3 linked regions of the Homo sapiens genome follow. The protein of the gene in region 1 interacts with the protein of each later gene in a pairwise test. Each region holds a gene or a part of one and is shown in the gene's direction. Other genes may lie near its edges.

Region 1 (7,263 bases):
AGGTCGAGGCTGCAGTGAGCCATGATTGCACCACTGCACTCCAGCCTGGGTGACAGAGGGAGACTGTCTCAAAAAAAAAAAAAAAAAAAGAATACAAGTTTAGCTGATTCAAAAGTTTGAGCTCAAGCTCAAACAAACAAAAATCACAAATACACTCCATTATATAAAACTGCCGGCTGGGGCCGGGCGCAGTAGCTCATGCCTGTAATCCCAGCACTTTGGGAGGCCGAGTGGGTGGATCACTAGGTCAGGCTAACACGGCGAAACCCTGTCTCTACTAAAAATACAAAAAAAAAAAGCCAAAAAAATTAGCCAGGTGTGGTGGCAGGTGCCTGTAGTCCCAGCTACTCGAGAGGCTGAGGCAGGAGAATGGCGTGAACCTGGGAGGTGAAGCTTGCAGTGAGCCGAGACTGTGCCACTGCACTCCAGCCTGGGCGACAGTGGGAGACTCTGTCACAAAAACAAAACAAAACAAACAAAAAAAACAGCCGGGTGGGTGCGGTGGCTCACACCTGTAATCCCAGCACTTTGGGAGGCCAAAATGGGCAGATCACCTGAGGTCGGGAGTTCGAGACCAGCCTGACCAACATGGAGAAGCTGTCTCTACTAAAAATACAAAATTAGCCAGGCGTGGTGGCACATGCCTGTAATCCCAGCTACTCGGGAGGCTGAGGCAGGAGAATCGCTTGAACCCGGGAGGCGGAGGTTGCTGTGAGCCGAGATAACGCCATTGCACTCCAGCCTGGGCAACAAGAGCAAAACTCCATCTCAAAAACAACAACAACAACAACAACAACAACAAAACAAAACAAAAACTGCCTCTTCAGATGGAAAAAAAATGGCTAACATACCTGGATTTAGGTTTGCTTCTGCCAACACAGAATATGGTAGTGGTTCCTGTCCTCACCTTCAGAGATTCTGATTTATTTGATCTGGGATAGGCCCACATATCCATCTATCTACATGTGTTTTTTTTTTTTCTTTTTTTTTTTTGCACCTGTAGTTACGAACCAAAGTGTAAGAACCACAGAATCATCTGGCAGAAAATGCAAAAGCTGAAGGCAAAGGGGTGAAGAAACTAGGGCTCAGCTTCAGGCTCTACTATCTACTTGCGCTGTAATCCCCACCCTTCCTGGAATAGTTTCTCCCTATAAAAACTGAAATAGTATCTGCTTCATCAATCCCTCCTACGTGGGATACTTGCATGCACAAAGAATATAGACATATTTGAGCAAGTGGGAAGAAAAGCAAAAGCTGAATTTGAGAGATAGCTGAAATTTGGTGAGCCAAAGATTTACACTCTGAAAGTACAATGGTCTGGCTAGTTTGCAAGGAGTAAGAGGCCCATTAAAACAAAACACTCAACTGCCTCCCACTACCACTAATATGCAGCATTTTGCCAATTACCCAAGCCCTCTTTATTTTATTTTTTTTTTTGAGACAGAGTCTCGCTCTGTTGCCCAGGCTGGAGTGAAGTGGCACAATCTCGGCTCACGGCAGCCTCTGTATCCTGGGTTCAAGTGATTCTCCTGTCTCAGCCTCCCCGGTAGCTGGGATTACAGGCACACGCCACCACGACTGGCTAATTTTTGTATTTTTAGTAGAGATGGGGTTTCACCATGGTGGCCAGGCTGGTCTTGAACTGCTGACCTCAGGTGATCCACCCGCCTCGTCCTCCCAAAGTGCTGGGATTACAGGTGTGAGCCATGTCCGGCCTAGGTCCCGTTTAGTCCAACTAATTTGAAAAGGTTTCCTTTGACAGATACCTCTTTATTGAAAGGATTTCGGGATCACCAATTACAGTTTAGTAATGCAGTTTGAGTAGCCTGCAAGAAGCAGCCCATTATAGACTATTTAACTGAAAATCACAAAACCTGACTTTTTTTTTTTGAGACGGAGTCTTGCTCTGTCGCCCAGGCTGGGGTGCAGTGGCACGATCTCCGCTCACTGCAAGCTCCGCCTGCTGGGTTCACGACATTCTCCTGCCTCAGCCTCCTGAGTAGCTGGGACTACCGGCACCTGCCACCACACCCGGCTAACTTTTTGTATTTTTAGTAGAGATGGGGTTTCACCATGTTAGCCAGGATGGTCTTGATCTCCTGACCTCGTGATCCACCCGCCTCGGCCTCCCAAAGTGCCGGGATTACAGGCGTGAGCACGCACCCGGCCAAAACTTGACTTTTAATCCATTCTCAAACTGTGCCCATGCCCAAACTGTGAATTTGGGCAAGTCACTTCCTCTCTTTAGGTTTGTTTCCTAAGCTGTAAAGTAAGAGGACTAGGTTAAATCAGGTATTCAGAGATGCTGATTTATGAAACCTGTAATAAATGGTCTTTGTGAACCATTTGGGATTATATGCAAAATTCCATGTGTGTGTTTATATGTGTGAACATTTTTCTGGAGGAGAGGTGCAAAATTTTCATGTGATTCATAAAGGGGCTTGTGATTAAATAAGAAGGTTAAGAACTGTTTGGCTACCCAGGCTTTGGCTCTTACTCTATTTGCTTCTTGGCCTCCTCCATGACAACTCTGGAAGCAAAGTTTAAATCCTGAAGTATATATAAATAATTGAATCTGGAGTCCTAGGACAAAATAAAGACAGATAATCCTGATCTTTTTTTTTCTTTTCTTCTTTTTGAGACACAGTCTTGCTCTGTCATCTAGACTGGAGTGCAGTTGCACCATCATGGCTCACTGCAGCCTCAACCTCCTGGGCTGAAGGTGATCCTCCCACCTCAGCCTCCCGAGGAGCTAGGACCACAGGTGTGTGCCACCACACCCAGCTAATTTTTAAACTTTTTTTTGTAGAGAGGAGATCTTCCTAAGCTGCTCAGGCTGGTCTCCAACTCCTGGGCTCAAGCAATCTTCCCACCCTGGCCTCCCAAAGTGCTGGGATTAGAAACGTGAGCCACCACACCAAGCCTAATCAGGTTTTTGTTGTTGTTGTTTTGAGACAGTCTCACTCTGTCGCGCAGGCTGGAGTGCAGTGGCGTGATCTCAGCTCACTGCAACCTCCGCTTTCCGAGTTCAAGCGATTCTCCTGCCTCAGCCTCCAGAGTAGCTGGGATTACAGGAGCACGCCACTGCACCCGGCTAATTTTTTTTTTTTTGTATTTTTAGTAGAGACGGGGTTTCGCCACGTTGGCCAGGCTGGTCTCGAACTCCTGACCTCAGGTGATCTGCCTGCTTCGGCCTCTCAAAGTGCTGGTATTACAGGTGAGCCACGGCGCCCAGGCCAAGCCTGATCAGTTTTGTTTCCCAAAGATCTGAGGAGATTTGCTTCCAGTAGGCAGATCTGAATCAAAGCATCCCCAGGACCTATGATCTGACCTGCAACCGTCACAGGAGTCACAAAGTCCTGAGGCCAAACTGGCTGCACCTGAATCCTAATGGTCAATGCCAAGAGGGCCATTGATTCTGTGGAAACCCCACCTACTCCCACTTTATGATATGCGCCTGTCCCTTACCTCAAAATACCTCCCCACTGGTCTGAAATTCCTCCCCCAGGGATTCAGTGCTTTGGGTTTGTAAAGTCTGAACATCCTGTGCAACCCAACTCCTTTGGGAAGAGGCATGACATGACGTCTTGACTCTAATTAACTAAAACTTGGAAGTGGAGGGGAGGGAGGACAGGGAAAGGACTGGAAGGGAAAGTGAGAGGGCTACTGAAGCTTTGTGCAGGGCAGGAACGGTAGGCCAGACTGGGGCAACCTCAAGGACACACGGAGTCCAAAGGGTTGTTTACATACTGTGTCCTGCACCCCAAGCAAAACATCTCCTGGAGAACAGGGCCAGGGCTCAATCTCCCCACAAAGGCAGGGGCGTGGAGAGAAGCGACCTCTACTTTCCCATCCCTCGCCTCAATTCTGCACCCGATCTAGCTATGGGGTCAAGCCTGGAGGGGACGCTGGTTCTCCAGACATGGTCCCGCCCACTGCAAGTGCCACCTTGGTAAGGGATTTCTCCGAGCAGAGGCAAACGCGAATTTGTGGCCTTCTTAATCAAGATGAGGTCTTCGAGCCCTGTCTGCCGCGCCAGGTCGCGTTACCTTCTTATGCTCCTCCGCCACAGCCAGACCACGACCCTCCTGCACGCAATCCCACCGAGACTGCGCCTTTTCCCCGCACCCCAGCAGGTCCCTAAGTAAGATGGCGGCGAACGCACTTCCGGCGTGTGTCCTTACGGGTGCGTCCGGGCGGCTGCTTGCAGGTGCCACCCAGCGGGTTCCAGCTTGTTTGCTGCATAGATTACAACGGTGATGGCGGGCAAGCGGTCCGGCTGGAGCCGGGCGGCTCTCCTCCAGCTCCTTCTCGGCGTGAACCTGGTGGTGATGCCGCCCACCCGGGCCCGGAGTCTGCGCTTCGTTACCTTGGTAATGAGAGATGGGCTCACCAAAGACTTCCCTGAAGCTAAAAGGGCAAAGGCCAGCTGGTGGAGGTCGAGGATCTCGGGAAGGAACAGCTGGTTTAGGAGGGGACGACTGGCCTGGGTAGTTGGGAGGCTGGATTCAGGATTGACCTGGAGCCCTGGCTTATGGGAGTCAGGATGACCGAATACGTCGGGGTGAGTCTGCCTTGAGACAGGGAAGTGGTTGAATGGTTAAGACTCATCCCTAAAGAAGCCTTTGGTTATCTTTTTTCCCCAGTTGTCCCCACCACATACGTTGCTTTCACTTCTCTTTTCCCTTCCTACCTGTACCTTGGCTTTGCCTATGGTCTCCAGTAGCATTGCTTAGCTAAGTTAGAATCTCTGGAATCTGGAAGAAGTGACTGACTCCTAGCTGGGGTCTTTTGCAGCCAGTAGGCTTCCCAGAGGGAATGAGACTTCCTTCCCTAACATGGGGCAAAAGGTAGGCTCTGGGTCCCTATCAAGGGGATGCTTCTGACCTATAGGCAAACCATTTTATTCTCTCAGCTGTACCGCCATGGAGACCGTTCACCAGTGAAGACATATCCCAAGGACCCCTATCAGGAAGAAGAATGGCCCCAGGGGTTTGGTCAGTTAACCAAGGTGGGTCAGAAGCCAGCCTTTCCTCAGGATGAGCTGCAGAATGAGCGACGTCTAGAGCAGTCTACAAAACTTGGGGTCCTACTAAACTGCCTTTTCCCATATGGGTGCTGACTTTGACCAGATTTCATAACCTTAATCTCTGTGCCCATGATATTGCTGTGCATGACTGGCCACTTAATGAAAGACTTCTGGGATCAGATTAATTGACTCCAGCAAAGCGTGAACCTGGAAAGCAACAGGGCCTAAACCCCATGGGGCTTGAAGCCACCCCTTCCCTCTAGACCCTCTTAACCCTTGGGTTTGCCCACAGGAGGGGATGCTACAGCACTGGGAACTGGGCCAGGCCCTGCGGCAGCGCTATCACGGCTTCCTAAACACCTCTTATCACCGGCAAGAGGTAAGGTTGGGAGCTCCAGAGGCAAGGGGAACAAGGTATGCTGCCCTCATCTTTTGCCCTCAGGGAGCCTAAGGCTGAGGCTGGGCACTTTGGCCTCCTTCTTGTATTTTTGGTCACAACTACAGGAAAAGACATCTGAGAGCTGTCTGGAACAAAGCCCTAGGAGCTGAGTTGCCCCTGCTTGGCTGGGATGAGGCAAATTTGATTAAGCATCCAAATTCGGACTTAAGGGCGGGCCTGGCAAAGTGGTTTCTGACTGTGAAATCACAGGCTTTCCATCCAAGACATTGAGTACCTATTAAAGGCCAAGGACTGTGCTAGCACTTTGCATTCAGTTGTGCACCATACAGATATGATCTCTGTCTTCATGGAGCTTAGAATGTTGTGGGGGTATCTAATGATAAACCAGACAGGGCCAAGATGAAAGACAGCGGGGAAGACATGCGTAGAGAGGGCTTGTCTTTTCTTGATCAAGATGAGGTTTTTGAGCCCTGTCTGCTGCGCCAGGTCGTGCTATATTCCTAGGGCACATCAGGGAGGACTGGTGAGTGTGCCTGCTCCTTGAGTCTTCGCCCCACCCCAGGAATGGGGGAAGCTGTTCCTCTGATTACCACTGTCAGCCTCAGCCGTATCAAGAATCCATAGACATTGTTATTGTTCTCTTAAGGCCCAGCTCTGTCCTGAGCTTGTCCTTCCCCAGTTTCCTCCTCCCTTTTCATGAGCCACTATCTCTGAATAAGCTCTTCAAAAAAAATTTTTTTTTTTGAGACAGAGTCTTGCTGTGTTGCTCAGGCTGGAGTGCAGTGACATGGTCTTGGCTCACTGCAACCTCCACCTCCTAGGTTCAAGCGATTCTCCTGTCTCAGCCTCCCAAGTAGCTGGGATTACAGGTGTGTGCCACCATGCCTGGCTAATTTTTGTATTTTTAGTAGAGACAGGATTTCATCATGTTGGCCAGGCTGGTCTTGAACTCCTGACCTCAGCTGATCCGCCTGCCTCGGCCTCCTAAAGTGCTGGGATTACAGGCATGAGCCACCGTGCCCGGCCCAAAATATATACATATATTTTAAAGGGGTCTCACTCTGTCACCCAAACTGTAGCACATGCCTCAGTCATAGCTCACTGCAGCCTCAAACTCCTGGGCTCAAGTGATCCTCCTGCCTCAGCATCCCAAGTAGCTGGGACTACAAGTGCCCGCCACACTTGGGTAATTAAAAAATTTTTTTTTGTAGAGACAGGGTCTCACTATGTTGCCCAGGCTGGTCTCGAGCTCCTGGCCTCAAGCGATCCTCCTGCATTGGCCTCCCAAAGTGCTAGGATTATAGGTGTGAGCCACCAGGCCCAGCCCTTTATCTTATTTTTTTCTCCCTGGTCTCTAAGGGTCGTCACTGGAGCCAGTTTCTGCCCCAAGGACCCTGATCTAGACAGGGAGAGAGGTGTTGTTATGAAACCAGACAGACCAGAGAGCCTTACTGATTGACTCAGCACTTTTGACTGGAAGGGGCATTTCAACTAAGGCCATTCCCACAAGAGTTCTTCACAGAGTGGTGACAACCCCCAGTGGAGTGTTTGGGGGATGGGGAAGGCCAGAGGCCAGAGGAGGGTGAGGGCCAGATGTATGGTAGGTTTAGTTTGCTGGGTGACCATCAGGAACAGGTTCTCCTCTGGGGCTCCACTTTGGGGTGACCAAAACTTCCCACCACACACACACACATACATACAAGGCTCCACTTCAGGGTGACCAAAACTTCCCCAACACACACACACACACACACACACACACGACTTGTGTTGCTATCGCTGCAGGTTTATGTGCGAAGCACAGACTTTGACCGGACTCTCATGAGTGCTGAGG
Region 2 (6,966 bases), about 30 Mb from region 1:
CACCCTGGAATAGCTTACGTAGCATCCTATACATGGTTGGTTCCTGCCTTGCACCTTTAGCTGCTGGGATAGGCTCTGGCCACTCTCAACCCTGAACTGGAAAAATTGGGTAAATAATGATCTTACTTGTTTATTTTTGAGACACGGTTTCACGCTGTTTCCTGGGCTGGAGTGCAGTGGCATGATCACGGCTCACTGCAGCCTCGACCTCCTAGGCTTAAGTGATCTTCTGCCTTGGTCTCCCAAAATGCTGGGATTACAGGCATGAATCACTGTGCCCAGCCTCTTGTTTTTTGTTTTGTTTTTGAAACAAGGTCTCACTCTGTCGCCCAGACTGAAGTGCAAAGGTGTGCGGTCATGGCTCACTGTGGCCTTGACCTCCGGGGCTTAAGTGATCCTCCCACCTTAGCCTCCTGGGTAGCTGGGACTATGGGACTATAGGGGTGTGCTGACATGCCTGGCTAATTTTTTGTATTTGGGTTTTTTTTTTTTTGTAGAGATGGTGTTTTGTCATGTTATCTTGCCTGGTCTCAAACTACTGGGCTCAAGCGATCTGCCCACCTTGGCCTCCCAAAGTGCTGGGATTACAGGCATGAGCCAAGGCACCTGGTCTGGCCTCTTTTTATTAATCTTTCTTAAATGTATGTATAGGCCACATTGATTTCAATGTTTGATATTAGAGGTGTTTTGGTCTTTATTTAGAAGTTTGATGATGTCTTGTGACCAGAAATATGCCACAGGAACTCAACTCTTATTTATATCAATTAGCCAGCCTATGGTAAAATTGGTTTTGTTATACATTGTTTTGCCTAAAGTTGCAGAACCCATTGATGGCGTTAAGTGAGGACTTACTGTATACACTTATCCTACTTATTTATTCCACTTCTAGCCCATCTCTGATTTCAGCTGCAGCTTTGGTGGACAGTTTCACTTCTCATCCTGCTAGCAATTCCTAGCATAGAGCAGTCACCTTTGATTAGAGATTGTATTAGTTTCTTATGGATGCTGTAACAAATTATCAAACACAAAGTGGGCTTAAAACAATACACATTTATTTTTATTTTTTTATTTTATTTTTTGAGATGGAGTTTCACTCTTGTCTCTAGGCTTAAGTGCAATGGCGCAATCTCGGCTCACAGCATCTTTACCTCCTGGATTCAACCGATTCTCCTGCCTCAGCTCCCGAGTAGCTGGGATTACAAGCATGTGCCACCACGCCCAGCTAATTTTGTATTTTTAGTAGAGATGGGGTTTCACCATGTTGGCCAGGCTGCTCTTGAACTCCTGACCTCAGGTGATACACCCGCCTCGGCCTCCCAAAGTGCTGGGATTACAGATGTGAGCCACTGTGCCTGGCCAACAATACACATTTATTATTTCACAGTTCTGTAGTTCAGAAGTCCTAAATGGATGTCAGTGGGCTAAAATTAAGGTATCATCAGGATACCATCTCTTCCTTTCCAGAGGCTCCAAGGGAGGATCCATTTTCTTGCCTTTTCCATTTTCCAGTCTGCTCCCAAAAGCTGGAGAGTCCCTTTCCCCAAATCCTCAATTTACTCACATCTGCAGAGTCCTTTTGTCATGGAAGGTAACATATTCATAGTTCCCAGGGATTGGAATGTGAACATTCCATTGGATGAGCCATTATTCTGCCTAGTGCAGAGATCACGAAAAGACAATCCAGATTAGAGTCAATTTACTGGGTTAGGATCCTGGGTTAAGTTACTTAACCCCTCTGTGCCTCAGTTCCCGCATCAATAAGATGGGTGAGGATAACAACAGTATCTACCGTAGAGGGTAGAGGTTTAAAGACAGTGTTTGTAAAGTGCTCAGAACAGTACCTGGCACATAGAAAGAACAATAGGAACATTTATTAAATACATTTTTTTTGAGACAGAGTTTTGCTCTTGTCACCCAGGCTGGAGTGTGGTGGTGCAATCACAGCTTCCTACAACCACCGCCTCCTGGGTTTAAGCAATTCTCCTGCCTCAGCCTCCTGAGTAGCTGGGATTACAGGTGCCTGCCACTACGCCCGGCTAATTTTTGTATTTTAGTAGAGATGGGGTTTCGCCATATTGGCCAGGCTGGTCTCAAACTTCTGACCTCAGGTGATCTGGCTGCCTTGGCCTCCCAAGTGCTGGGATTACAGGCGTGAGCCACCGCGCCTGGCCTTATTAAATATATTTTAACAACATATTGATACTTAGGTATATGTCAAGCACTGTTTTAGGTGCTGAGGATATGGAAAGGAATATGACTTGGAACTCAAGAAATTAGATACACAAATGCAGTTACTTCCATAAAAGGCATAGAAATACTATAGAATTACAGTTTTGTTAAGGCTTAGGGAAACTTTAGAAATATTAGTCAAATGAATATGAATATGAATATGAATGACATTTGAGCTCAGCTTTGTACAATGAATAGGTGTTGGCCAGTCAGCTAAGTAGGGAAGAGCTTGAAGACATGAAGAAATGTGTATTCAAATAACGTTAATATTTCAGTGTGCTTGGAGCAAAAAATAAATGATGTGAGACAAAGCTAGAAAGGCTAGTGTAAGCAGTCAGGTAATAAAGTGCCAAGTTCAGGAGTTTGAACTTTATCCTGAAAGCAATAAAATCCTTTCGGTGTTTAAACGGGAGGACATCATCAGATTTGTGCTTTTATAAGGCTACTCAGGTAACTAGTGAGAAAAATAGATTGAGTTTGAAGAGACTAAAGGTTGCTCCAGTTGTTCAGGTGGTGGTAGTAGAAGACGACACAGGCAAGGACTTGAAAAATATTTAGGAGAAGCTACAAGACTTGGTGTCCAACTTGATATGGATGTTGAGAGAGGAAGAACGGGGAGCTATTAGTATGTCTAGGTTCCTGGCTTAGGGGATTGTTGAATGGGTGGCCCATTCATTGAGAACGGAAAGGAACGTAAGAAGCAATTTTGGGGGGGAAATAATAATAATAGCCAACATTCTAAAGGGCTTGTTACTATTACCATGGTAAAACTGAGGCTTAGGAAGACCTAGTTAAGGTACTACTTATTATTACAGAAAAATTACGGCTTAGAAATGTCAAGGTCCTATCACTAATATTTGAATAGCTAGGATTTCAAGCAAGGCAACCTGATTCCGGACTCTTAGCCTTTCTAATGCTGTCTCAGTTTCGCACATGTTGAATCTGAGGTACGAAGAGTATGCAGGTAATGCTGCTCGGGAGGTATTGGGAAATACACAATCTGAGCTCAGGAGAAAGAAAGCTTTGGGTCGAAAGTACCCTCCACGGTAGGGGAAAAAACGTGAAAGGAAGCCCATTCTTTTCGTATGTCAGTTCACATTAGTTCAAACATCTCCGTTATAATTTCTTTGTCTTCCTCCCACCCCTGCCCCCTCTCCCACAGAAAGAAAACATAATACATGTCTGGCTGTGAGATCACACGACATCGGATAGTTTTCAAATTCAGCCCTTGACAACGAGCTCATAGATGCGGTGGTGCTTTGTTAACCTGAAAAGGACCCTCAGCGCCGGAAGTTAGCCGTCTTTCTCCATCCTGACTACTACAGTAGCCCTCCCAGAAATCGTCCCAAAATTGTCTGATAGAAAGGCTGCACGGAAACAACCCGCCACGGACAGCGGACCGAGAACAGTGACGCGACGCGATGACGTCACGCAGCAAGCGGGTGATTCCCCAGCCTCTGGCGTCACGCGCCGATGACGTAATCCCAGGCGTTCGCCCTCATGCGGGCCAGGGTTTGGCCTCGCTCCCACGGGTCGGTCAGGCCCTCCCCGCCCCCTCTCACCTGCGGGAGGCGGGGCGGGCACGGCTCCACCGGAGCCGCAGCCGCCGCCGCCGCGCCGGGGAGGGGGAGTGGGGGAGGGGGAGGGGGAGAAGGGGAAAGGGCAGAGGGGAGGAGGAGGCGGGAGGAGGAGGAGTAGGGGAGCCAGTGAACTAGGCGGTCAGGCCTGCCGGGCGGCGTACAATAGCGCGGCTGTGGGCGGGGGAGGCTGCCCTCCCGCGGCTGCAGCCGGAGCCGAAGGTGGTGGCTGCACAGTAGACGCCCCCTCACGGCTTCCCCCACACGCTCCCGCCCCCTCGCTCGCCCATCGCGCTTCCCTCACAGGCTCTGCAGTCCTCCCCCACAGACGCCTTCCCCCTTGGACTCTCATTCCCTTTTCCACGGAGCCCCGCGCTTTCGTGAGCCCCCTCGAGGAACCTGGTCTCCGCATCCAGTTACCACCTCCTGCCTCAGAGGCCATCTGAGCCCTTCGCACCTCGCCCCTCAGTCCCCCCTTCCCCCCCCGCCCGCGTCGCCTCGCTCCCTCCCGCCCCCCCATCATCCCTTCCCTCGCAGTTCCCCTGTCCTGAGGGGAGCCCCGCCACGGGCAGCGCGGCGGCGGCGGCAGGAGGGAGAAAGTGAAGCGGTAGCTCGCGCACACTCGCGCCCTCACTCCCGGCTAGGCGGCACCCACCGCCGGGAGGAGGAGGAGGAGCCGAGAGGAGCTGAGCGAGCGCGGAAGGTGAGAGCGGGCCTACCGCCCAGTACCCCTCGCGTCCCGGGCTGCCAGGGCTGGGGCGCGGGGGTGGGGACGGGTGGAGTGGGGGTCTGGGCCCATTTATTTCGCGTTGCGGGGCCGGGCGCCTGGGCGGGAGGAGGCGCCAGGTAAGGTGAGGCGGGCGGCGCCCCGCGAGGCCCGCTCCCGTCGGGCCAACAAAGGCCCCCTGTGCGCGTACCGGCGGGGTCGCGGGTCTCAGACGCCGGGCGATTCGAGAGACCTGGGAGAGGGAAGGGGCGGGGCGGGGCCAGGCCAGGCTGGAGCCGGGAGGCCACACGAGTACCGGTCCGGGACCGAGTCCGTCCCGAACTTCGCAGTCCTGCGGCGCTCACCCTGTCCCGCTACGAGGAGGCACAGCAAAGCGGCGCCCAGTTCCTTCTGCATGGAATAAATGACCCCTTCCAGGCTTGGACAGTCACCTTTAGGGTTCTACTCCCTGAAAAATAAGGGCTGGTAGGACTTGACTTACGCAGCCCCTCCCCCACCCCGGAATATTCTGTAACTTGGGAAGTGAAAAACAACCGGGGAAGGAGATTTATAGTTATTTTATGTTCATTATTACGTTTGAAAAGACATGATTGTTGTAGCCTTCGCTATCCTATTTCAGCAGTACACATTACTGGGAGTGTTTTGGAAGAATACTTGAGAAGTAGTGGGTGTGGCGTTGTGAGCAACGTCCTTGGTTTTTAAACCCCTTGGATAATTGTTCTACTGTTACAAAAACTGTGAACAGTGAAGGGAAGGGTTAGTTCCGTGGTTACTAATAAAAATTCAGATTCATTAGTCTTGACTTTAAGAATTGTTCCTGAGAACAATCTTTAATTTTGCCTCCTACATTTTTGGGTTCTCTTTCAACTCTGTCAGGAGAAAGTAGGAATTATCAGTACAGATACCTCATCTCTCTTACCCTGTGGCTTCATCTACTTCTTGTGTGACCTTGAGCAGGTCACTTCCAGCCTTAAAAGCTCCAGAAGTTTGGTTTTATGCCCCAAAACGGGCAAGTAGCAAGCACCGGACTCAGCTTTCAAGAGTCCACTGAAGAATTCCCACACTGTGAAGTCTTTGCTGGCCTCCATCCTGTCTCTCCTCTTACAGACAGAGCTGATTTCTTCCCATTGGCCCGGTGGGATTTCTACCACAGCACTTACAACATTTTGGTTCCTATTTGGAAAATTCTAAGTCAGGTGCATATAAAAACTCCCCACCTCAACTAGAAACTATGCCTTTCAAAAAGGGTTTTGGGAACATTGACCCTGAAAACTTCCCATACTTTCCCTGAAGCTTATCCATACTCTTTAACTACATGAGCTCATGGGTCTACCTTGGTAAATTTGCTTATTCAGTCAATTCGTTTATCCAACATTACTGGAGTTCGGAGAGCTACTATGTTTCAGGCCTCTTGCTAAGGCTATGGGGATTCAGTCTATTAAGATATTCCCTGTCTTCAAAGAGCTCAAAGTCTAATGGGTGAGGTAGACAAGTAAACAATGAAGGTCTGCCCTAATCTCTGGGGGACTCCAGTTGTACAGGTAGTAGTGTGCAATAATTGAGGCTGCTGGACCTGTTTTACAAGTCTTCTCTTGGCCAAAGTGAGTCCTGCAGGGAAGGTGACCTGCCTCATCCATAACAGGGCATTTGGTAAAAAGCTTGTTCAGTTCAATTCAATATACATTTACTAAGCACATGTTTTGAGTCCCTGTGCTAGGTTTGAAGGAAGCAGTGCCTCAAAGGAAGGTACTGTGCATCCAGAAAGATTTCTGTAAAACAAAACCTTACCACATCAGCGCCCCCTACCCCTGACTCTTCATATTCTGAAGATAAATTTCAGAGTAACATGGAATAAAAAGCTCTCAGGGATCAGACCACTGCCTGCCTTTGCAGTCTCACTTTCTGTGGCTCCCCTGCCACTCTCATCTTCACTCTTGCATGTTCTGTTTTCTTCCTGGAATGCTTCCCTTCCACCCCTTACCTGCCTGTGGAGATGACCTTGTTGGGCCTCTGGGATGCAGTCCCTTAGTCTCTCCTTTTCCTGCATAGAATGAGTTGCTCTTCCATCCTCTGGCTCATGTACATACCACTTTTATGGCCTTCTGTAGCGCTCTGTTGCAATTACTTGAGTTTGTGCCTGTCTTTTTTTGGTAGCCTGTGAATTTCTTTTCTTTAATAAGCCCTTTAAATGATTCTGATGCTTGCTAAAGTTTGAGAACCACTGGGTTAAAAGATCTGCTCTTAATAAAAACCAGCACCCTGCCAGCTCCTGCTGTCCCGTTTTTCTTCCGTAGCACTTAACTGCGTGACATCCCATCCCATCCCATCCCATCCCTCTCTTGCCAATAGAATGAAAGCTTCCTGAGACTGGGAAGTTTTGTCAGTTTGGTCATTGCTTTAATCCTAGTGCCTAGAATAGTGACTGCATATAGC
Region 3 (7,548 bases), on another chromosome or scaffold:
ACCTCTGCCTCCCAGGTTCAAGTGATTCTCCTGCCTCAGCCTCCTGAGTAGCTGGTATTACAGGTGCCTGCCACCATGCCCGGCTAATTTTTGTATTTTCAGTAGAGACCAAGTTTCACCACGTTGGCCAGGCTGTCCTCAAACTCCTGACCTCAGGCAATCTGCCCGCCTTGACCTCCCAAAGTGCTGAGATTACAGGCATGAGCCACCGCGCCTGGCCCAGGCATTGGTTTTTATTGTTTATGACTTCTGGCACTTTTTTCTGCTTACAGTCTCATGAAGTTTCCTTATAATTTTTTTTTTCTTTTTTTCACATAGGGTCTTGCTCTATCATCCAGGCTAGAGTTTGGTGGCATGATCATAGCTCACTGCAGCCTCAGTCTCCTGGGCTCAAACAATCCTTTTGCCTCAGCCTTTCGAGTAGCTGGGACCATGCCTGGGCTGATTTTTTTTTTTTTTTTTAGTAGAGACGGGGTCTCACTATGTTGTCCAGGCTGGTCTCTAATTCCTGAGCTCAAGTAATCCTCCCACCTCAGCCCTCCAAAGTGCTGGGATTACAGGTGTGAACCACTGCACCGAGACAGAAGAATTTATTTAGTGAAGAGTTTTGCAGAGCAAGACAATCTGGAGCAAACTATCCAGTAAATAAGCATTCAAAGTATGCAGAGATGGCAAACCATGAAGGTCACCAGAGAAGAGGTAGAGTTAGAAATTTCTTTCTCTTCAAAGTCCCTCCACTCCCCACAGCCTAACACCTCCCTTCTTTCCCCACCCAGCTCTCAACAATTCCTCCCAAGTTCACTCACCTCGTACTGTCATAAGATAGACCCAGCCAGGCCACCAAGGGATGGGCCACATCCACGCCATGTTGGAAGCTGAGTTCCCATTCAGGCTCCACCATTTCCTGGATGTTTGATGATGAGCAATGAACTTCCCGTTCTGAGCCTCAGTTTTCTTATCTGTAAAATGGGAGTGGGTGTGATAAAGTCATTTAGTCATTTGGTCAGTCTTGCCTAAGGCTTCTTCTGGGCAAGGTCCTGTGTGGTTGCTTGGGACACAGGGATGAGTCAGTCCCGTACCTGCCCTCAAGGAGCTCACGGTCCAGTGGAAGAGATGACGAATGTCAATCCAGGTGGCCCCCCGTCCAGGTTGGGTTGAGGGAGACACCTGCTGTGGGAACCTACGTGAGAGAATGAGTAATCCAACTACAGCAGGTGGCAGCTGGGTGGTGTTCAGGGAAGGTTTCCTGGAGGAGGTAATGTCCAAGTAAAGACTTGAAGGACAGGTTATTGCCAGGAAAAGGTGGGGAAAACATGCTAAGAAGAGAGAATAGGCCAGGCACGGTGGCTCACGCCTGTAATCCCAGCACTTTGGGAGACCGAGGCAGGCAGATCACCTGAGGTCAGGAGTTCATGACCAGCCTGGCCAACATGGTGAAACCCCATCTCTACTAAAAATATAGGCATGGTGGTGTGTGCCTGTAATCCCAGCTACTCGGGAGGCTGAGGCTGGAGAATTGCTTGAACCCAGCAGGCGAAGAGAGATCGCGCCACATCACTCCAGCCTGGGCGACAGAGCGAGACTCCATCTCAAGAAGAAGAGGGAATAGCATTCAGTGAAGGGCCAGAGGCCAGAGGGCATGGCATGGGTCAGGGAAGCTTGATGTGTTCTAGAAAGCTGGAGCCACACGGAGACGTAGACATAGCTGTGTCATGCAGTGTGAGGGCCACTCACCACTCAGGACTCCTTTTAAAAAAATTTTTGACAGGGTCTGGCTCTGTCACACTGAAGTGCAGTGGCGTGATTATGGCTTACTGCAACCTGGGCCTCCAGGCTCAAGCAACTATCCCACCTCAGCCTTCTGCATAGCTGGGACCACAGATGTGTGCCACCACACCTAGGTAATTTTTTTCTTTTCTTTTTTTTGTTTTTTTTTTTAGAGATAGGGTCTCACTATATTGTCCAGGCTGGTCTCGAACTCCTAGGCTCAAGTGATCTTCCCACCTCTGCCTCCCAAAGTGCTTGGATTACAGGCATGAGCCACCTTGCCCAGCCATGTCAGGCTGGGGTGCAGTGGTATAGTCACAGCTCACTGCAGGCTCGACCTCCCAGGCTCAGCAATTCTCCCGCCTCAGCCTCCGGAGTAGCTGGGACTACAAGTGTGCACCACCACATCTGGCTAATTTTTTTACTTTTTGCAGAGATGGTTTCTCACTATGTTGCCCAGGCTGGTCATGAACTTCCGGACTCAAGCTATCTACCCACCTTGGCCTCTCAAAGTGCTGGGATTACAGACATGAGCCACCATGCCTGGCCTTAAATTTATTTTTTAATTGACAAGTAAAAATTGTATATATTTCTGGTGTATAACATCATGTTTGATATATGTATGTATATGTTGTGGAATGGCTAAACCAAGCTATTTAACATATGCATTATTTTACACCCTTATTTTTTGTGGTAAGGACACTTAAAAAATCTTCTGACTTAAAAAAAAAAGTATGGTGATTGGAAAATGTAAATGTGCATGCGTGCTTGGCATCACATTTCATTGGCCAGGACTTCCCTGGATGCTAAAGGTCCTCAAATGCCAGGCTGGGGGGCTGGGACTTGGTCCCAAGGGAGATGGGGACCCAGGGCACGTCTGTGAGAGGAGGGGCAAGGTCAGCACAAGGCACAGGAAGGTCTCTCTGGGGCAAGGGATACAGAGAACAGAGGGATCCTGGTCCAGGTGGGAGAGGTGCAGCTCTGAGTTGGGGTTGAGGGTGTGGGTACAGAGAGGAAGGGACCCCCCAGAGAGAGGAGGCAGAGGGATAGGGCCTGGTCACTGGGTTGTGCAACATCAGACTTGCTGTCTGTGAAGATAGCACGTCCTGAGAAGAAGGTGCTGAGGTCAGTGGGGACCAAATGTGAGAGGGAGCACCCGGAGAGTATACTGAATACCGAAGTAGTCTTCATCCCTGGAGTGATGGGGGGTGCACAATGCAAGATGACAATTAGATTCAATGCAAGACAAAGAAAAGGGTTGGCTGGGAACAGTGGCTCATGCCTATGGTCCCAGCTCCTGGGAAGACTGAGGCGGGAGGGTCGCTTGAGCCCAGGAGGGTTGAGGCTGCCACGAGCAAGGATCGTGCCACTGCACTCCAGCCTAGGCGACAGAACAAGACCTTGTCTCAAAAGAAAAAAGAACTTTTTTTTTTAAGTTACCTGTAGTGCCCAGCCCAAGCAGGTGCTGAGCCAGACTTCATTCCTATCATTGTCCTTATTACGCAGTGACTTCCCCCTCCTCATTTCTCTCCACTCTGCCACGCACACACCCTCACCCTCCAGCCCATACCAACCACCCCAACCACTGCCTGTGGTTTCCCATGTGCACCCAGGCCAGGCATTTTCACGGCCTTTCCTCCTGACCTACGCCTGGCTCAGCTTTCTAGGCCCAAGTTCAAAGACACCTCCCTAAATCTTCCCAGATCCCTCTGCTACTGCCCAGCACCACCATCTTATCACAGCCCCACGTCGTTCCCAAGTGCTCTCCGATTTCTGCTTAACTCCATGCCTCTCGCTGTGTGTCCGCATCTCATCAATAAGTCCTCAAGTCCTCTTCCATCCTGCTAGCTTCCTCATCGCTCGGGAATCATCCCCGCTACTTCCTGGGGAAACTGACTCCCTTCTGGGCACACACAGTGCTACCCCCGGGGAAATCTAAGAAGAGACCCAGGAGAAGATAAGCACGGAGAGTCAGAGAATCAAGGGGAAAGAAAGGGAGAGAGGCCGGGCACAGTGGCTCACACCTGTAATCCAGCACTTTGGGAGGCCAAGGTGGGTGGATCACCTGAGGTCAGGAGTTTGAGACCAGCCTGGCCAACATGGTGAAACCTCTTCCCTACTAAAAATACAAAAAACATTTAGCCGGGCGTGGTGGTGGGTGCCTGTAATCCCAGCTACTTGGGAAGCTGAGGCAGGAGAACTGCTTGAACTCAGGAGGCGGAGGTTGCAGTGAACTGAGATCACACCACTGCACTCCAGCCTGAGTGACAGAGCAAGACTCCGTCAAAAAAAAAGAAAGAAAGAAAGAAAAGAAGGAAGGAAAGAAAGAAGGAAGGAAGGAAGGGAGGAAGGGAGAGAGGAAGGGAGAGAGGAAGGGAGAGAGAGAAAAAAAGAGGGAGAGAGACACAAATACAGAGACTGAGATGGGAGAGAGAGAGAGATGGAAGCTCCCTCCCCTCCATGGCCAGGGAGACAGATGGAGCAAGAGACCTCAGGGGTGGGCAGACTTGGAGGAGAAGGACCAGGAGGATGTGGAGTGCCGAAATCTCCAGTCAGGGCCAGGTGGGCAGTCAGAGACTGCAAAGGAGGACTGTCAGACAGGGACAAAAGGAAGCCATTGATGTAACCGCCCTCCCGCCTGCCCGCCGGAAGAGAGGTTGAGGCCGGAGCTGCTGGGAGCATGGCACTGGGGTGCTGGGGGCGGACAAAGCCCGATTGTTCCTGGGCCCTTTCCCCATCGCGCCTGGGCCTGCTCCCCAGCCCGGGGCAGGGGCGGGGGCCAGTGTGGTGACACACGCTGTAGCTGTCTCCCCGGCTGGCTGGCTCGCTCTCTCCTGGGGACACAGAGGTCGGCAGGCAGCACACAGAGGGACCTACGGGCAGGTGTGTGAGTCACCCCAACCGCACTGAACCTGGGCAGGCTGCTTCCCAGTGCCGGAGGGCTCTAGAGCCCGGAGTGAGGGCCTGCAGGTCCCTGGGTGGCACAGAGAGTGCTGGGGGTGCAGGGAGGCCTGGGGCACCATCTGCTTGCCCCAGAGGCCGGAATTTGTCTTCAGACACTTTCTTTCTCCAAAACCCGGAGGTCTAAGGACTGAGCCGACTAGAACTTCCTCTGCCTCAGATTCAGGCCCCAGCCCCTCCTCCCTCAGACCCAGGAGTTTAGGTCCTAGCCCCTCCTCCCTCAGACCCAGGAGTCCAAGTTCCCACCTCCTCCCTCAGACTCAGGAGTCCAGGCCCCCAGCCCCTCCTCCCTCAGACCCAGGAGTCCAAGTTCTCACCTCCTCCCTCAGACCCAGGAGTCCAGGCCCCAAGCCCCTCCTCCCTCAGACGCAAGGGTCCAGGCCCCCAGCCCCTCCTCCCTCAGACTCAGGAGTCCAGGCCCCCAAGCCCCTCCTCCCTCAGACCCAGGAGTCCAGGCCCTCACTGCACTCAGGGACCAGTGCTCCCTTCCCTGGAGGCCTGGTCAGGGGTCACCAAGAGCAGAGCGTGGGGGCGGGAGGAATGTGTGTGGGAGGCCTGGGTAAGGAGGAAAAGGGTGTAGCCAGTCTCCTGGCTCAGGGACCTGAGAGACAGGGGTTAAAAGGACGTTCCAGAAGCATCTGGGGACAGAACCAGCCTCTTCCAGGGAGGCCTGGGAGCTGGGGGTGTGTGTCTGGCAGTCCCTGCAGCCCTGGGCTCTGCGGCCCCTGCGTCCTCCGCTTGGCTCTGCCACTGCATCTGAGTGTCTTCTCTCCTCACGGCTCCCCGCATTTCTAACTCTTTCTGCCTCCTCGTCTCAAAGCTGTTCCTTCCCCCGACTCAAGAATCCCCGGAGCCCGGAGGCCTGCAGCAGGTGAGATCACAGACATCACAGAACCTGCCGGGTGGGCGGGGTGGGTGGCCATTGCGCACAGAGCCAGGCTCCGAGGAAAACTCCCATACAGAGGAAGAACGCTAGGGCCCCCTAGGGTAACCCTCTCCTGTCGACAGGAAGGCAAATCAGTGCCCAAGAAAGTAGAAAGATCTAATCAGAATCTCACCATGGGTTACTGGACCAGTGGACGTAGTTCTGAATTCTCTTTGGCACTGTTTTCGTGGGATCCTCTGATGGAAGATGTGGGCTGAGGAAGAATAAATCAGGAGGCTAGATGGGAAGGACAGAGGTCAAGGCAGGAGACCATAGCAGGCCAGGAAGGAAGGAGAGGATGCAGAGGGAGCAGACAGAGGGATGGGGGGAGGGTCGAGGCAGTGACTAATGGACCATGTGGCTTCCCCTCTCAGGAGCGGCCATGAAGAAGCTGATGGTGGTGCTGAGTCTGATTGCTGCAGGTGGGGAAAGGGCATTTGGATGGGGGAGGCTTGCAGACAGGGTTGGGCTTGTTGATGGAGAAGAGGCTGGTATTGGGGATGGGGATATGCACAGGGTTGGGGTGGGGGAGCTTTGAAATGAGGAAGACGTTGGGGATTAGGCTAAGGGTGGGGAATACAGATAGGGAGGGTGGTGGGAGGTGGGTTTGAAGATATGAGGGTTTGGGGTGGGGTTGGCTTTAGGGATGGGGATCTAAACATAGAAGAGGTAGGAGGTAGGTTGGAAAGTTGGAGAGAGCCCGGGAATAGGGGATACAGTTGGGTTTGTAATGGGAATGGGGTAAGTTTGGGAGTGGAAATACAGAGAAGCTTTTTTTTTTTGAGACAGGGTCTCACTCTGTCACCCAGGCTGGAGTGTAGTGGCATGATCCATAGTTCACTGCAGACTTGAACTCTTGGGTCTCAAGTGACCCTCCCACCTCAGCCTCCCAAGTAGCTGGGACTACAGGCGTATGCCACCATACCCTGCTAATTTGTGTGTGTGTGTGTGTGTGTGTGTGTGTGTGTGTGTGTGGAGATGAGGTCTCACTGTGTTACCGAGGCTGGTCTCAAACTCCTGGGCTCAAGCGATCCTCCTGCCTCAGCTGGGATTACAGGCATAAGCCACTGCACCTGACCAATCTTGACTGGAGTTCATGTTGAGGGGGATGCGCTTGGTTTCTCCAGAACTCCTCTCTGACTCAGATCTTCTCTCCCTCAGCCTGGGCAGAGGAGCAGAATAAGTTGGTGCATGGCGGACCCTGCGACAAGACATCTCACCCCTACCAAGCTGCCCTCTACACCTCGGGCCACTTGCTCTGTGGTGGGGTCCTTATCCATCCACTGTGGGTCCTCACAGCTGCCCACTGCAAAAAACCGTGAGTCTACACTGTAAATGAACAGCAGATGCGACTGAACCCTGAGGGTGTCTTATAGATGTCAGGCAGGAGGTGACATAGGCATCCCCCCCATCCCAGCACGAGGCCATCTGATAGCCAGGTGCATTCGGCTGTTGCTTAATTGAGTACTTAATGTGTGCCAGGCCCTGCGGGCATAGCAGTGGAAAAGAAAATAAAAAAAAGAAAACAAAAAAAAACAAGCAAAATTGCTGTTTTCCTGAACTTACTTTCTAATGGGGGAATTGGATCATTTGGGGACCTGCAGGGCGTGATGGGCATTTGGATTTAATTCTGAGCACAGTAGGAAGCCACTGGGCAGTTTTGTTTTTGTTGTTTGTTTGTTTTTTGAGACACAGTCTCGCTCTGTCACCCAGGCTGGAGTGTAGTGGCATGATCTCAGCTCACTGCAACCTCTGCCTCCCAGGTTCCAGCGATTCTCCTGCCTCAGCACCCCAAGTAGCTGAGATTACAGGTGTGCACCACCTTGCCTGGCTAATTTTTGTATGTTTGGTAGAGACGGGGTTTCACCATGTTGGCCAGGCTGGTCTCGAACTCC

Evidence for each region. Proteins that work in one complex are often made in the same cells at the same time.
Region 2: the proteins of ACP2 (region 1) and PAK1 interact in binary tests that used the Homo sapiens proteins (3 or more experiments, as listed by UniProt).
Region 3: the proteins of ACP2 (region 1) and KLK6 interact in binary tests that used the Homo sapiens proteins (3 or more experiments, as listed by UniProt).

The regions. Positions count from the first base shown.
Region 1 is NC_000011.10:47,245,786-47,253,048, reverse strand, and holds the start of ACP2 (lysosomal acid phosphatase isoform 1 precursor), read left to right. Parts: upstream 1-4,245; 5' UTR 4,246-4,259; coding exon 4,260-4,373; exon of another isoform or gene 4,374-4,410; intron 4,411-4,420; exon of another isoform or gene 4,421-4,534; coding exon of another isoform or gene 4,535-4,564; intron 4,565-4,693; exon of another isoform or gene 4,694-4,749; intron 4,750-4,915; coding exon 4,916-5,011; intron 5,012-5,321; coding exon 5,322-5,408; intron 5,409-7,214; coding exon 7,215-7,263. Other genes in the region: NR1H3 (oxysterols receptor LXR-alpha), read right to left, coding at 4,185-4,245.
Region 2 is NC_000011.10:77,471,095-77,478,060, reverse strand, and holds the start of PAK1 (serine/threonine-protein kinase PAK 1), read left to right. Parts: upstream 1-3,966; 5' UTR 3,967-4,509; exon of another isoform or gene 4,510-4,652; intron 4,653-6,966. UniProt on the Homo sapiens protein: Protein kinase involved in intracellular signaling pathways downstream of integrins and receptor-type kinases that plays an important role in cytoskeleton dynamics, in cell adhesion, migration, proliferation, apoptosis, mitosis, and in vesicle-mediated transport processes.
Region 3 is NC_000019.10:50,966,592-50,974,139, reverse strand, and holds the start of KLK6 (kallikrein-6 isoform A preproprotein), read left to right. Parts: upstream 1-4,548; 5' UTR 4,549-4,650; intron 4,651-5,372; exon of another isoform or gene 5,373-5,548; 5' UTR 5,549-5,599; exon of another isoform or gene 5,600-5,623; intron 5,624-5,786; exon of another isoform or gene 5,787-5,867; intron 5,868-6,027; 5' UTR 6,028-6,035; coding exon 6,036-6,075; intron 6,076-6,643; exon of another isoform or gene 6,644-6,814; coding exon 6,815-6,971; intron 6,972-7,548. UniProt on the Homo sapiens protein: Serine protease which exhibits a preference for Arg over Lys in the substrate P1 position and for Ser or Pro in the P2 position.